2 separate regions of the Homo sapiens genome follow, and region 1 is linked to region 2. The links come from fine-mapping of genetic effects on gene expression. Tissue or cell type: monocytes after Pam3CSK4. Region 2 holds a variant in brackets; the other region holds the start of a gene. All regions are shown on one strand. Distances are between the middles of the regions.

What was found. PIP is the estimated chance that this variant, and not a neighbour inherited with it, causes the effect.
Region 1: it holds the start of YWHAQ, and the variant in region 2 is fine-mapped to the expression of YWHAQ in monocytes after Pam3CSK4 (Quach 2016, PIP 0.95).

What each region holds. Positions count from the first base shown.
Region 1 is chr2:9,629,801-9,632,401 of GRCh38, reverse strand. YWHAQ (tyrosine 3-monooxygenase/tryptophan 5-monooxygenase activation protein theta) reads left to right here and starts at 1,405. Exons shown (of 6, transcript NM_006826.4): 1 at 1,405-1,461; 2 at 1,868-2,243. The coding sequence starts at 1,950. RefSeq lists silencers at 1,084-1,253, 1,304-1,403, 1,604-1,953 and enhancers at 2,074-2,173, 1,917-2,601.
Region 2 is chr2:9,752,393-9,755,145 of GRCh38, reverse strand. It overlaps LOC124905969 (a long non-coding RNA gene), which reads right to left and starts at 2,314. Exons shown (of 3, transcript XR_007086205.1): 1 at 2,178-2,314; 2 at 883-1,345; 3 at 293-755. RefSeq lists enhancers at 459-608, 506-1,292, 1,293-2,079. The variant GTC/C (reference allele first, on the strand shown) is at 1,687.

The sequences.
Region 1 (2,601 bases), 120 kb after region 2:
AAGAGGGAGTCTGAATTTCTGGAAAGTCGGCACCTTCTCCTCCCATCTGTCTGCACTCTCAAATCTCCCATTCTAGAGATTCTCCGGATTTGCTCCAGTCTCCACTCAGAATGGGAAATTCTTTATGATCCATTCTCCTTAGACCTGCTGGAATCGGGATCATAGCAGCGTGAACCCAGAGGGCAATTCTCATCTTAAGATGGCACAGGGACCACGCGCCAGACGGGCAGGGCAGCCACCCTACCTGGATGGAGTTAGGGAACTGGGGAAGTGCAAGGAGAGACAGGAGTGGTTTAAGAGGAAAGGGAGCTGCCAGGGATGACCCTGAATGGGAGGGGCCTGGGGGAATCTTTCTCGCTTCAGCAGGGTGTTCCCCAGGAGGAGAAAATCAGAAATCAACATCCAGGGAGAGGATTTCAGCTTTTCAAGTGACCTCTCACAAATAATACCAGAAACAAAAGCGTGTGCACATGTGACAACGATGTGAAAAATGATGTATTTAGGTGCATAACCTGGAAAGCCTAAAAGATACATAAAAATTGCTTTTTTTTTGCGGGGAGAGATGTTATGGGCAGGGTTTTTTTTTGCGGGGGTGGGAAGGGGTAGTAATAGGTGTTTTCCTGCAAATTGTGCTTAATGTCATTTCTCATTTTAAAGAAAACCACAATACTTGGCATTGTCACAGAAACTCCCCTGGATCTTCTGGGACCTACCTTTTCACAAGGGAATTTTTTGTTTTAGGATGCCCATCTGAAAACTTGAATTTATCATGTAAATGCCATACTGAAGACACCGTCTCCAGAATCAATTCTTCTTTAATGGGGATGCGGTTTGCTTAATTCGGAGCCCTAATGGCAACGTCATTAAGGTCTGGGTTTAGTGTCTTGGGATCCAAACCTTTGTCACGGATAGAAAGGTGGAGGAAAGAAAGGCCCCCGTGCTCTAAAACAGCTGAATATGTCACCCTCCGAAGTCCAGCCTCGGCCAGAGCCCGTGAGATGCAATGCACCATCCGCAGCGGGAGACGCAGCCGCCGCCTAGGAGGTCGTGCGCGCCTCTGGGTCTCGTGCCGCACCCAGAAGTGCCGGGGTGGCGGGGAGGCTGAGGGGAGTTGGTAACGGCATCGCCATGGCAACAGTGACGTCCTTTTACCCTGGATCTAATTGGAGGAAACCCCGTGGCCGAAGCCGCAGCCTGCCGGCCAACCGAACTTCCCCGTACCGACCCACCCTCCTAGCCTCCGCGTTCCCTCCCGCTCCGCCCCCCTCGCCCCCTTCCGCGCGCTCGGTCCTCATTGGCCAGCGGCGCGCTGGGGGCGGGACTCTCGGGAGAAGCTCGGCGCATCATTGGGCGGTGGACCGCCCCTCGGCCCCGGGGTAGGCTGACACGGGAGGGTCCTCAGCTAAAGCCAAAAGCAGATCAAAGTGGTGGGACTCGCGTCGCGGCCGCGGAGACGTGAAGGTGAGCGCCTGGGTCGGCCCGCGGGCTTCCTCCGGCCGCGCTCGGATTGAGGGCCGGGCGGAGGTGCCGCCCTTGAGAGCAGCCGGTTGTCGATGCCGCTCCCCTCAGGGACGGCTCCGGGCGGGAAGGTGCGGGGCCAACGGTCGCTTCCATCTTGGGCCGGCCGGGCGGGGGTGGCGGGAGCGGCCGCGGCTCGGGCTCCCTGCGCGCGGGGCCTCCGCGCCGCCCCCGCCTCCTCCAGCCGCGGGCCGCGGCCTCCCCGGGTGCCCAGCGGGGGAGGGGGCGGGGGAGAGGGAAATTCAAGCGGCCGCGTGTGCGGGAGACAAAAGCGGGCGGCGGGCCGCATTGTCTGACGGCGCTCCCTCTCTGCTTTTTGTTCTCGCCTCGCCGCCCCGCCCCTCCGCAGCTCTCGAGGCTCCTCCCGCTGCGGGTCGGCGCTCGCCCTCGCTCTCCTCGCCCTCCGCCCCGGCCCCGGCCCCGCGCCCGCCATGGAGAAGACTGAGCTGATCCAGAAGGCCAAGCTGGCCGAGCAGGCCGAGCGCTACGACGACATGGCCACCTGCATGAAGGCAGTGACCGAGCAGGGCGCCGAGCTGTCCAACGAGGAGCGCAACCTGCTCTCCGTGGCCTACAAGAACGTGGTCGGGGGCCGCAGGTCCGCCTGGAGGGTCATCTCTAGCATCGAGCAGAAGACCGACACCTCCGACAAGAAGTTGCAGCTGATTAAGGACTATCGGGAGAAAGTGGAGTCCGAGCTGAGATCCATCTGCACCACGGTGCTGGTGAGTCCTCGGCGCGGGGAGCAGGGGAGGCCTTTTGTGAGATGCTTTTCATTGAGAGTTTCGCGGGCACGGAAACAAACGTGAGCCGGGGCTTGCCGGACTGTCTGCTGGGGTGGAGGGTTTTAGGTGAGCCCTGACTTCCCTACTGTGTCCCTCCGGTTGTTGAGACTCAAGAAGCCGCTTTTCCAAGGATAAGTCCTTTTTTTTCGCCCCAGATGCTGGGTAGCTACCAAACGATGGAACTTGGAAACATCCAAGTAGGTCTCTGCGAGACTGAAAGGCGTTTTTAAGTTTCTTGTGCGGGGAGACTGCGTCCTGAGATCTGTGAGCCCTTTAAATGTATTCAGTCGGTTCACAA
Region 2 (2,753 bases):
TCTGGGCATCTGCGAGGCCCTCCTGACCTGGATCCCTAGCACCCCGACCCAGTTCTGTGAAGCGTGTCTCTGGGCGCTCCTGAAGGCAGGACTGAGAGCTCCTGTCCCTCCCCTTGCTCCGTTTCCATGTTCTGGGAGGAAAGAATGAATGGAAGTTGCGAGAAACTGGGCTCACATGTTCAGCAGTCGGCATTGACTGAACAGTCCTGTGCCAGGTGCCTCACTTGCCTTGCATTTTTTTTTTCAGTGTAAATCCACCCTTTATTGCCTCCAAAAAGATATTTTCTACAGCTTTACCCAGGTATAACTGACATTTAATGAAGCAGTACAATTTGATGAGTTTGACATGTCTACACCTGTGAAACCGCCCCCTGAAGCCATGTGCCCCTCTGTCGCCCGTCCCTCCTGCCCCTGCCCACCCTCTCTCTCCAGACAGACTCTGATCTGCCTCTGTCACTGTGATGAGTGTGCATTTTCTAGAAACATCTGAATGGAATCATTCTTCACACACTCTTCTCCCATCTAGTATAAGGAGGTGACGTGGAACTTTCTGAGAAATGGTCAAACTGTTTTCCAAGGGGGCTATGCTGTTTTCCGTTCCCGCCAGAGAGGAGTGGGGAGGTCAGGGGGGCAGCTGCCGTTCCGGCCAGCACTGATTGTCTGTCACTGTCGCCGTGGGCGTGTGGTGGCATCTCACTGTGGCTTTCATTTGCATTTCCTGGTGGCGAATGACTCCGAGGTTTGGTTCTCACGGCCTGCCCGTGAGGTAGGAGGTGTTGGCCCAGTTTCCCAGGGAGGAGGCTCAGGAGCAGAGCCATGGGGTAACCTGCCCGAGGCCACCCCGCCCCGAATGGGAGAACCGAAGCTGTCCCTGTTGCTCACCTTCTTCTTTCCTGAGCTGGTAGATCTCTTGTGACCCCATTAACTCTGAGCCCCACCGGGTGTCCGGTCAGGGCAAGGGACAAGCTGAGGGAGGAAGAAGGAGCCGCCAGCTTCCCCGCCCCAGGCTCTCTGTCTTCAAAAGCAGCAAACACGCCCGGCCCTCAGCATGGAGCCTGGCCAGGGGCCCCTTCTTTTCTATCAGCCTCAAGTCACTAGACGCCCATAGCGCGCTCCTCTTCTCTTCTATCAGCAGGAGCAGAGTCCCCCAGCGAAGTCTCCCCGCTCCCCACAGAGCCCCTCCAGCCCGGCTCCCTCATCCCTGGAGAGGATCCCAATCTCCTCAGAACTCACCCTCCCACGGCTGCCTCTGCTGTGGGGACTCCCGAGGCTGTGGACAAGTGGCTGGAGGCACCCCCCGTCGGAGGGGCGGGTGGCAGGAGCGCCTCTGGGGCGGGGCAGCCACCTGGGGAAGAAAAGGGGGGGCCACGGGGCCCTTGGGTGCCCGGCCCGCCCCATACACAAGGCCAGCTTCCCTCTTAGCACACAGGGCTGTGTCCCTGACACAGATTAACCAGACCCCAGAGCGGGGGAGTTGATGGCTCTGAGATAAGCTTGTGCCCCCCACCCCAAGTCATGGTGTCAAATCTAACTTAAGGGGTTTCTCAGCCAAAATGCCGTTTGCCACCAGGACTGTCCCAACAAAGGACTTTCCCTCTCCCCTTGGCTACTCTTTCTCTTGGTCTTGGTCCTTATCGCGATCCTCAGCAGCACAGGCAGGCTGTGTGTGTGTGTGTGTGTGTGTGT[GTC/C]TGCACTTGCACACGTGGTGTGCCAGCAGCTGCGGAGTCATTTGGGCCTGAGTTCTACGACTGAATCCTGTTCCCCTGCGAGGCTTTGTCCCGTTAATGAACTCTCTGTGATTCATTTCACTTCTCTGCATAATGGGCATGACACAGCCTGGAAGTTGGGCGTGATAAGTCAGTTAAAGGGGAAGTGTCATGTCCAGAGCCTCTGCCTGAGCCTGCACCAAGCAGGCACCTCCACAGGTTTTCTCCCCACTTGTGCCCCTTACTTTTGCCCTGGCCTGCGTCCTGAGCCAAGGGACGGAAGGGAAGGTCTGTGGGTCGGTTCCAGGCGGGGGTAGAGCCCTGAGCTGATGAGGGTTCTGAGCCTGGGGTCCACCCTGACAGTGGAGAACCTGCAATGCTGGGCCAGGAGCCTGAACTTCAGGCTGCCAAAAGTAGAGTAACTCAGCAGGGGCGAGTTCCCAGGGCCCGTGTCCCCTTCCTTCTCCTCACCTCCAATAGCAAAGGGAGGGGTCAGCGGCTGCCCGCCTGTGATAAATCCGAGAAGGAGCCCGGCCAGCCCAGATGTAGAAAACGGCCGACTTGCTCTCGGAGTTTTGTAGCTGCTTTGACTAAAAGCAGCATCACCCCCACCACACCCCAGTGCAGAGAAGTGAACCAGCGCTGAGTCACAAAGCACAGCCCCAAACCTGCCCTGGGCCACAGCCCGCCCACCGCACCCCCAGCTTCCTGAGGTTGGGTCATGGGAGCAGAGACCTGAGAGATGAGGAGGTGCATTGAGGTCTGGGAGGAGCATGCTAAGCCCATGGGATGGCAAGAGCAAAGTCCCCCAGCAAAGGACAAGAGAGCGGCCAGGGCAGCCGTGCCCGAGACTGAGCCTGGAGGGTGATGGGCAGCAGGGACTGTCCGGAGCCTTGTTGGCCAAGGATGAGTTCAGTTCTCATCTGAAAGCCACCAGAAGGTTTTAGGCTGGGGAAGGGCAGGATCTCATGCTTTAGAAAGGCACTGCTGGCTGGGCGCCGTGGCTCATGCCTGTAATCTCAGCACTTTGGGAGGCCAAGGCGGGCG